Linked DNA regions of Homo sapiens: region 2 is linked to region 1. The links come from fine-mapping of genetic effects on gene expression. A gene starts in region 1. The other region holds a variant in brackets. All regions are shown on one strand. Distances are from middle to middle.

What was found.
Region 2: its variant is fine-mapped to the expression of AGO4 in whole blood (TOPMed, PIP 0.95).

The regions. Positions count from the first base shown.
Region 1 is chr1:35,805,204-35,810,581 of GRCh38, forward strand. It overlaps AGO4 (argonaute RISC component 4), which reads left to right and starts at 2,813. Exons shown (of 18, transcript NM_017629.4): 1 at 2,813-3,232. The coding sequence starts at 3,214. It overlaps CLSPN-DT (CLSPN divergent transcript), which reads left to right. Exons shown (of 3, transcript NR_199050.1): 3 at 1,542-1,737. RefSeq lists enhancers at 1,987-2,486, 3,586-3,865 and silencers at 2,696-2,905, 3,186-3,435.
Region 2 is chr1:35,934,109-35,939,486 of GRCh38, forward strand. All of the region lies in intron 1 of AGO3 (argonaute RISC catalytic component 3), which reads left to right. Among named protein-coding and RNA genes, the nearest start is that of AGO3, 5.7 kb to the left of the region's middle. The variant C/T (reference allele first, on the strand shown) is at 3,180.

The DNA of each region.
Region 1 (5,378 bases):
ATCTCAGCTCACTGCAAGCTCCGCCTCCCAGGTTCACGCCATTCTCCCGCCTCAGTCTCCAGAGTAGCTGGGACTACAGGCGCCCGCCACCACACCCGGCTAATTTTTTGTATTTGTAGTAGAGACGGGGTTTCACTGTGTTAGACAGGATGGTCTCGATCTCCTGACCTCATGATCCGCCTGCCTCGGCCTCCCAAAGTGCTGGGATTACAGGCGTGAGCCACCGCGCCCGGCCAACTCTAGTTGGTTTTTCTTTTCTTAGCTGTGCAGCAGTCTGATCGTTTAGTAAATACTTTCTCCCCTTTGAACATTCTGTCCCCTATTACTATTTCCAGTTACTATCTGGTTTAACAGAGAGGTAGCATGATGCTGTGAAAAGAATATAGAGTATGGTGGCCGGGCATGGTGGCTCACGCCTGTAATCCCAGCAGTTTGGAAGGCCGAGGCGGGCGGATCACGAGGTCAGGAGATCGAGACCATCCTGGCTAATATGGTGAAACCCCGTCTCTACTACAAATACAAAAAATTAGCCGGGCGTGGTGGCGGGCACCTGTAGTCCCAGCTACTCGGAAGGCTGAGGCAGGAAAATGATGTGAACCCGGGAGGCGGAGCTTGCAGTGAGCCGAGATCGCGCTGCTGCACCCAAGCCTGGGCGACAGAGCGAGACTCCGGGTCAAAAAAAATAAAAGAATATAGGGTATGGTATCAGTAGACAAGAATGTAGGCACTAGATTAAAAGTCCCAGTTCCGGCCGGGCGCGGTGGCTCAAGCTCGTAATCCCAGCACTTTGGGAGGCTGAGGCGGGCGGATCACAAGGTCAGGAGATCGAGACCATTTTGGCTAACACGGTGAAACCCCGTCTCTACTAAAAATACAAAAAAAAATTTAGCCGGGCGTGGTAGCGGGCGCCTGTAGTCCCAGCTACTTGGGAGGCTGAGGCAGGAGAATGGCGTGAACCCGGGAGGCGGAGCTTGCAGTGAGCCGAGATGGCGCCACTGCACTCCAGCCTGGGCGACAGAGCGAGACTCCGTCTCAAAAAATAAAAAATAAAAAAATAAAAGTCCTAGTTCCATAGCCAATCAGGGAGAGAATTAGCCAGGACTTAAATGCAAGATTTGAACTCCAATTTTTCCCATGCTTCACTTCAGCATCATGTAATGCAAAGCCCGACTTACTTAACTTCCCTGAGCTTCGGTGTCATCATCTGTACAAATACCTTTCTTAACAATATCTACCTTACTGGTGGTTGTAAAGATTGAGTGACAATGAGAAGCCCATAGCAGAGTGCATGGCCAGGATGTGATGCTAATATTTTTTATCATTACATAAAAAAACTACCTGGCTCTGTGACAGCACATGGCAGGTGCTCAAATGAATATCCCACCACACATGCTAGGGGCCTAAATTATCCCCCACCCCAATAATTTGTATATTGAAGTCCTAACTCTAGCACCCCAGGATGTGACTGTAATTGGAAACAGGGTCTCTGAAGAGGTAATTAAATTAAAACGAGGTCACTAGAGTGAGCCCTACTCTAATAGGACTGCTGTCCTTATAAGAAGAGGAAATTTGGACACAGACGTGCACAGAGGGAAGACCACGTGAAGTCACTGGGAGAAGGCCACTATCTACCAAGTGAAGGAGATAGGCCTCAGAAGGAACCAACCCTGCCTACATCGTATCTCTGACTGCCAGCCTCCAGAATTGTGAGAAAATAAATTTCTGTTGTTTAAGCCACCCAGTCTGTGGTACTTTGTTACGTTATGCCGTAGCAAAGGAATACAACACACACACACAAACTCATCGTACCTTTTCAATTGGTGGACAAGGGGCTCCTTCCTTCTGCTGACTAGAAACTGCTTCTTGGCCTGTTGTCCAGTGTTCTCCCACTCAAAGTCCTTACTGAAAGCCCTAAAGATGCTGTGCCTGCTGGGCTGACCATGCTGCCTTGGAGGTGGTGCTGCTCCCTTGGCTTTTGTCTGCTAAGGGGAAGGCATCCAAGAAAGCAAGACCTTTCTCTCTCTCTCTCTCTTTTATTTTTATTTTTTTTTTTTCAGACAGTCTTGCTCTGTCGCCCAGGCTGGAGTGCAGTGGCCCGATTTCGGCTCACTGAAACCTCTGCCTCCCGGGTTCAAGCGATTCTCCTGCCTCAGCCTCCCAAGTAGCTGGGATTACAGGCGCCTGCCTCCACGCCCGGCTAATTTTTTGTGTTTTTAGTAGAGATGGGCTTCCGCCATGTTGGCCAGGATGGTCTCAAACTCCTGACCCCAGGTGATCCACCCGCCTCCGCCTCCCAAAGTGCTGGTATTACAGGCGTGAGCCACCACGCCCGGCCAAGACCTTTCTCTTCTAAAGTGACTGGTGATTTGCTGACCAGAGGCGCTTGTCATGGGACCAGGGAGGGAATGCATCATTCATCAGGGTCCATTCCCGTGGTGCCTTCCGGCTATACGGAGAGGGACGCGCAGTTGGGTGTGTGGTGCTGAATGAAGGGATGAAGGAGGACTGCTAGCGTCTAAGGTGACCCTAAAAGACGAGATGACAGAAGCGATCTGGGGTGGGAGGAGGGAGGAGGGAGGCGAGGTGGCTCCTGTGAATCTCAGTACACTTTCCACTCACAGAAGTGGAAAACTGAATCTGTGGGTCAGCGGAACTGGAATCCAGATCTTTTGCAGGACGCCCTGGGGGGATGGCACGTAGCCCCCAGAGCCGTTGGCCACCGGACGGCCTCCTCGGGTGGACGGGGCAGAGCGGGCCAGCGGGCGCGTGCCCGACACGTCCACCGGGCTCTGCACCCTCCGGGCGCGCGCTCGTTCCCCGACCCGCCTCGCCGCCTGCCGGGCTCTGTGGACCCCGCGCCCGGGGCCGCGCACGCCCCCTCCGCCCGCCGGGACCCTGGGTCCGCGCACCCCGCGCCCCCTTCCCTCCCGGCGGGCGCGCGCGCTGGCTCCCGCTCCCGCTCCCGTTGGCGGCGGCGGCGGCGGCGGCGGCGGGGATTGTTTTTGTTGTCGCTGAGGCCGGAAGAGCCGGAGCCGGGTCCCTGTCCCCGGGCCGGGCGCCGCCGCCGCCCCCTGCCCAGCGCCCGCGTCTCCGCGGCGCCACCCCAGCGCCAATATTCCGGAGATCAAGCGTTACGCGGCGGCGGCGGCGGCGGCGGCGGGGCCCGGAGCGGGAGGCGCCGGGGACCGGGGCGAGGCGGCCCCCGCCGCCGCCATGGAGGCGCTGGGACCCGGTGAGGAGCGAGCTCGGGTCGGGGCGGGACCCGGGACCCGGGACCCGGGGCGGGCGGCCGGGACTTTCGCTGCCCCGTCGCCTCGCCGGGTTCGGGCCGCCAGGCCTCGGGGAAGGGGACCCGAGCCCCGCAGCACGAAGCGGAGGGAGCTGACCCGGGCCTGGGGGGCGGTGACCGCGCCCCAGCCGGCCGTTGGGTGGATCCCGAGGTCCAGGGGGGAGGTTCGGGAAGGTGACCGGCGCTGCCGGGCGGAGGCCACTCTTGGCCCCACCTCGGGGAGACGATATGTGCCCGGGGTCGCGACGAGGGTAGTTTGGGCCTCAGAAGGGGGCGATCCGCTACCCAGTGCGCGCGGAGGCCTGGCCCAGACCGGGAAAAGGGCCCCGCTGCCTACTACCAGCCGGTAGTCCTGGTTTGGGGCCGCGCCCCTATTTTTCTTTGCACTGGCAGATGGTCCAGAGCCTTCAGATGAGGAAGAAGAACTTCATCCAAACACCTCTCATGATCTCTGAAGGTCAAGGGACAAAATGCCCACCCTTTCTGAAAGGCCCTGATGTCCCAAAGAACATGGTCCTGTGCCTCTGTCACTCAGTCTGTGTGTTAGTCTCAGAGTGGTCTGAGCCAGCCTTTGAGTGACACAGGAGTTGCCAGTCAGTCTGCTCCACCACAGGCTTCAATGCCCTGAGTTCTCTTCTAATTGGGTTATGAGTGGTTGTGAGGATCAAATGAAGGAGAAAGTGCTTTGGAAACTAATTTGTTGTGGATATGGATGGCCTCTGGTTATTTCTCTCTATCCAAACCAGAAGAACCATTCCAGGCTGTAACAAGTGTCCTGAGTATTGGGGCCTGGTGCTTCCACCTCAAAGCCCAACAGGTTTCTAATGCCTTGGCTAAGTAGCTCAGTGTTTAGGGGCTGTGGTGGAATTCACTTTAATATTCAAACTTTACCTACATAATGAACTTAGTCGTAGAGTGTTTCATCTTTTTAGTGCGTAGAAAATTCGAGTTGCCATTTGAGTTTGGAAACTTGGCACGTTTGTTTACTTAGCACTTGTTTGCATAGCTGAGTGATTAAGCCCCACCCTAATTTGCTTCTTAAAGTATTGTTTAAAGGCCCTCATAATCAAATTTCATATGCCTTTTAAAAATAAATTGGCTTGCCGCATTAATATTGTTTGATAAACTTCAGTGTATTATGCCAGGTTAACTTCAGATATGTCCCCTGGCTAAAGACATGCTCAGGTCTTTAGGAATGTAACAGATTCAATCTAGTAATGTAATAGTTGTATGACCCTGGGAAAATTACTCAATTCCTTTGAACTTTCATTTTCTCGTCTATAAATTGAGGGTAATAATAAGTATGTTCTGTAAGATTGTTGAGAGAATGAAATGAGAGTATATGATAAGTCTTATTGTAGAGACTAGTGCCTATAGATGCTCAACAGATGTTTCTTCCCTCCCCCTAGTAATTCATAATTGAAACAACTGTTGCATTTATGATCTGATATCGAAAGAAATTGTGTAACTGTGGGCATAAACTGAATTTCATGGAAAGGATCAACCTGGTGATATTAGGCACTGCCCAGGGACTCTTTTTTTTTTTTGTTTTGATTTTAGCTTTTGCAGGTTTGAGGACTTAGTGGTTCACTCAGGATTGTTCAGATTGTGGAAAATTAATTCTCACTAACCACATTTATAAGACACTAATGAATAAGCCAAAATGTCACATGGATCTTTTCTGTTGAGTGGAATATTTTCCTGTCTGCTCTCTAGCAAACTCCTTTTTTGGTGTTGCAGTACCTTGGAAACCCAACTAATAAGTAGCTGCCTGCTAAGCATAGAATCAGAGCAAAGGGAGTTGATCGTCTTGTGGGATGATTCATCCAGGCTGTTTTAGAACCTAGAGAATCATCCCTGCTTCTTTGGCAGAGCACACCTGGATCTAGTGCTTTGTGCCCTCCTCACTTGAACAGTCCCTGAAGCCTTCTAGTCTTGTTCTATCCCTCCCTGCCCACCGCCTCCCTGCAACCTAGTTCAGTTTCTGCCAATACTCAGAAATATAATTAATTAGATTTCCACTTATTTTGGTAATATGTTGTTTGCAGTACTTTATAGTTTGTAAAGTGCTTTTATGACTATTAGCTCA
Region 2 (5,378 bases), 130 kb after region 1:
TTACTGCTGAACTAAGAGTATAGGTTATGTTTCAGTTCTAAATAAAGTGGGAATAGGGAGCTGCAGAAATGCTTGATGATGTTACTTCTCCTGAGTACTCATTTTTTAGGTCCATACTATTCTAGTCTATGTTTTCAGGTAATGTTAGACTACCGTTTAGGACAGAGGAACTACACTTTATAATGGAAGAAAAACATTTACTTTTACCTTAAATTAATGACATGCAAATTGTTTGATGTTTGGTGGAAGTTTTATACAGTCTTGCAAAAGTGAATAGACTGTTTCTTTCTTATTTACACTTTTAAATTCATGTCTGAAAATAGTTGTTTTAGAGTTCTGTGTTTATTTAATAATAAAAGTTTTAGAAAAGTTATTTGGAACCAAGTTCCAAAGGAATAAAAGTTGCATATATGGGAAGCTAGAACTAAATCAAGATTGGGATTTGAATGATGTAGATAAAAATTATGGGTCAAAAATACCTACTAAAATATGTAATGCCATCAGGGTCCCAATTTAGTATTTAAAACAATCTTCTTTTTATTTATTTATTTTTTTTGAGATGGAGTCTTGCTTGCTCTGTCGCCTAGGCTGGAGTGCAGTGGCATGATATTGGCTCACTGCAGCCTCTGCCTCCTGGGTTCAAGTGATTCTCTTGTCTCAGCCTCCCGAGTAGATGGGATTACAGGCGCGCACCACCATGCCTGGCTAATTTTTTGTATTTTTAGTAGAGACGGGGTTTCACCATGTTGGCCAGGCTGGTCTTGAACTCCTGACCTCAGGTGATCTGCCTGCCTCGGCCTCCCAGAAAACAATCTTCTTTAATAACTTTGAGAAATGTTTTTGTCGTTATATAAATTTTCTCACTTGTAGTTCTTTGCCTTGAAGAAAAAAAATCAAATTACTGCTCTGTCTGTGGGCATGAATTTTGAAAGTGATAAAGGTTTTTCTACTGGGTTGTCACTTAAATTTTGGCTTATGCTGCCCTGGAGTGACCATTATGACTTAAAAAAAATATATTTATTGCACTTGACTGGCAGTGGGACTTATAAAAATGTGCAAGATTGTTTTGATATTTGGTTTAGAATTTCTCTTTCAATGAAGGGACTCCGAGGGAAAACAAAAATTGAGACATAAAATAAATTTTTCCTTCTAAAAAAAGACTTAAGGGAAAAGACATATAGATAACCTTCAAATATAATTCAGTTAACATGAAGACATTTACAAAATTACCCATGATTCTATCAGCCTCATATAACCGTTCTTTACATTTTTAAACCAAATTCTAAACTAATCTGTTTAGTTTTTTAAAACTTAAGGAATTAAGTTATTTAGGAAAGCCATTAGAATGAATGAAAAGATATCTACATGCTACTTCATTTTGCTTTTTTGGAGAATTGTATGTAATAAGTTGGTAATTTAGAATTAATTTGTATTAGTTTATATCTTCCAATGGGAACATTGCGTTTTTTAGTTACTGCCTGGCCTGACAGTATGCAAAGAGGCCTGGGGCCCTGTAAAGGGGACATTTCCTGGAAGAATTCTCTGTTGTATATGGAAAAACCCTGGCTCAGAGTAGATTTCTTGCCAAATTGTCTAAGCTGATGGATTCTAGTTGAATACCATTTTGCTTTATAATATAGCCATCTAGTTTCACATCGGTTTCTATATTCTTAAAATACTTGAGGATCTACCTGAAAGGTGAATTAAAATATTATTAATCTAACAAAACATATTATCTTATAGTACTTAAAACTAGAATCTTAAAAAGTAATTTATAAGTTTTTGTTGTTGCTAATGGGTAGGGGAAAAAAGACCAAAGTGATAATTCTGTTTTCAGGAAGGTAAAACTAAAAAGATAATTTATTTAAGATCAGTATCCTTTCCAGACCTGTTTAGTCTCAGACTGTTGAGATGAACAGCATTTACCAGACATTCCTACCTTCTAATTCAGTTGTCTTGGATACTGAATAGACCCTCATTCTTGGCTCATTAACAAAACAGATGTGAGAAAGAATATTGTGTGGTTTTTCAGCCATAATGGTTATGCTGTTAGGATACATGAACAGCCTTTCTGTATTTGGAGTTTCTGTGGTTTTCTGCCATTATCTGTGTTAATATTAATGACTTTCTTTGGCTAGCCACTGCTTAAAAAAAAAAAACCAACTATTGAGATTCAGCAAAACCTTGTCACACAACTGATGCTTTCTCTTATACATTAAAATGTGGGCATTTTGTGGTTTGGTTATAATAAAAAAAAGTGTGCATTAGTCTGAAATGTCAGTTTAAGGAAATGAAGAATTCCTTGTTTTTTGTTTGTTTGTTTGTTTGAGACAGAGTTTTGCTCTCGTCGCCCAGGCTAGAGTGCAATGGTGTGATCTTGGCTCAGTATTTTTAGTAGAGATGGGATTTCACCATGTTGGCCAGGCTGGTCTTGAACTCCTGACCTCAGGTAGTCCACTCACCTCGGCCTCCCAGAGTGCTGGGATTACAGGCATGAGCCACTGCACCTGCCCTAGAATTCCTTGTTTTACATCAGCCAGTTATTTTATACATCATTTCCAAATTGTCAAGTTCTTGGGAAATCAGAACGTGGTATCTACAGTCTATTGATGTGAGACATTTTTAGATTAAAAAAATATTTTTTGTAGAGACGGGATCTTACTATGTTGCACAGGCTGGTCTTGAATTCCTAGGCTCAAATGATCCTCCTGCCTCAGCCTCCCAAAATGCTGGGATTGCAGGAGTGAGCCACCATGCCCACCCATATTTTTAGGTTTTTCATTTGTAGAAGAAATTTTACAAGAATGTGTTCTCAATTGTAAGCTTACATAATACTACTTTTGAGTCATTACTAATACTTGGTATTTTAACTGATTTCTGAATCTTCTAACAATATGAGAGAGACATAGTATTTCTGTGAACTTTAAAAATGATGAAAGAATAGATTGCAAAATGGGCTCTTACTAATAACAAGGGAAATGTCCCCTTTTATTTTCAAGGGAGGAAATGCCTTTTAAAAATTGTTTCTCACTCCTGTAATCTCAGTGCTTTGGGAGGCCGAGGCAGGTGGATCAGCTGAGGTCAGGAGTTCGAGACTAGCCTGACCAAAATGGTGAAACCTCGTCTCTACTAAAAATACAAAAAATTAGCCGGGCATAGTGGCGGGTGCCTGTAATACC[C/T]GCTACTCGGGAGGCTGAGGCAGGAGAATCCTTTGAACATGGGAGGTGGACATTGCAGTGAGTTGAGGTCACGGCATTGCACTCCAGCCTGGGCAACTCAAAAAAAAAAAAAAATTGTTTCCCAGCCGGATGTGGTGGCTCCCACCTGTAATCCCAGCACTTTAGGAGGCTGAAGCAGGCAGATCATGAGGTTAGGAGTTCAAGACCAGCCTAACCAACATGGTGAAACCCCATCTCTATTAAAAATACAAAAATTAGCTGGGCATGGTGGCGTACACCTGTAATTCAGCCACTTGGGAAGCTGAGACAAGAGAATTGCTTGAACCTGGGAGGCGGAGGTTGCAGTGAGCCAAGATCGTGCCACTGCCCTCCAGCCTGGACCACAGTGCGAGATTCTGCTCAAAAAAAGAAATAAATTGTTTCCCATACTGCCACCTGATAAGCTTAACCCTCAACTGGCTGGATGTTCTATAAGTGATTATTTAATTGTAATGAGCCTAATAATAAGTGCGGTATGTTTGGACAGATTCATTGAATGAAAAAGTGGAATTAGCAGGTAGGAGGTTCCTGAAGTTCCATGCTGTTTACTACGTAGCTTTGCAGACTTAACATGTATAAAATCAGAGACATTTCATTAAGTCAGATTTTGAGATCAACACAATATATTTCTTTTTCCAAAACAAAAATGTATTCTTTTTTTTTTTTTTTTTTGAGACGGAGTCTTGCTCTGTCGCCCAGGCTGGAGTGCAATGGCATGATCTCGGCTCACTGCAACCTCCGCCTCCTGGGCTCAAGCAATTATCCTGCCTCAGTCTCCCTAGTAGCTGGGATTACAGGTGCCCGCCACCACGTCCAGCTAATTTTTGTATTTTTAGTGGAGATGGGGTTTCACCATGTTAGTCAGGCTGGTCTTGAACCAGACCTGACCTCAGGTGATCCACCCTTCTTGGCCTACTGAAGTGCTGGGATTACAGGTATGAGCCACTGTGCCCGGCCCAAAAATGCATTCTTTTTCCAATTATAAAATAATAACTACATGTTTATTACTTTAAAAAACAAACGATATAAGAATGTCTCAAATAGAAGATGAAAGTATGATCCTATCCTCCAGATGAAACCATTGTTAACTCTTTCTTGTATATCTTCCCAGACATCCATCCGTCTGTCCATATATTTATCATACGAATTGTTTCTAACCTTCTTTTTCCACTTAGTAATGTGTCGTAAGTATCTTTCCCATATCATTACTTACATCTATATAATAGTATAATAATTTATACTGAGTACATAGCATTTAATTTTATCTGTATATTGATCAGTCTCATTGATAGTGGTTTAGATTTTTTCCAGTTTTTTGTTATTATGACTAAAACTTTGTAAGTATTCTAGTACATATGTGTTTGTATACTGGTCCAGTGCTTGCTTTTGGATAAATTGTTAGAAGTAGAATTATTGAAACAGTATTCCATGAATATTAAAGAAAATGTTTCCAGTGAAAATCTATAAGTTAGTAATTGGCTATAGTATATGTTATAGTTGATTTTGATTTATTCACTGCTTGTTTTTTTTCATCAGTCACATTTGCTGTAGGCTATTGTTTAGCTTTAGACTTTCCAACTGGTACACATTGGATTACTAGATGAGTGAACAACATGGACACATGTATGCTTTGGAAATGTATGGTTTTATGTTTGAAATTTAGTTTGGTTAGTTATTATCCAGTACATACAATAACTGCTGAAAGAAAAGTTTGATATAGGGAGAAAGTCCAGATAGTGCTTTGTATTTCTGTGTAGTTATATTTCCAACTCTAGTGGGCAGTATGTATTTGTTAAATAACTAAAATATGCTTCATTGGAAGTATAATTCATTGTATTGACAGAATTGTTTCATCTGCTAATTTACATTATTATGTAATGTAAATATTTCATAATATTCTGGATATTATGAAAATATCCAGAATATTTTCTGGATACTAAACTTGATTAGTATCTATAGAATTCTGTTCATTGCTTATTCATGCAACAGAATTTTGCTTTGTGCCAAATTATTTAAAAAGCACCAGGTAAAGTAATGACCATGGAGAAAAAAATTGACAGTATGATATAGTGTAAAAAACATGGGTTTTAGAGACAGATTCTGGCTCTTAAATTAACTGAAATTTATTAATGATGTGTCGGTATAGGTTTGAGTGCAAAT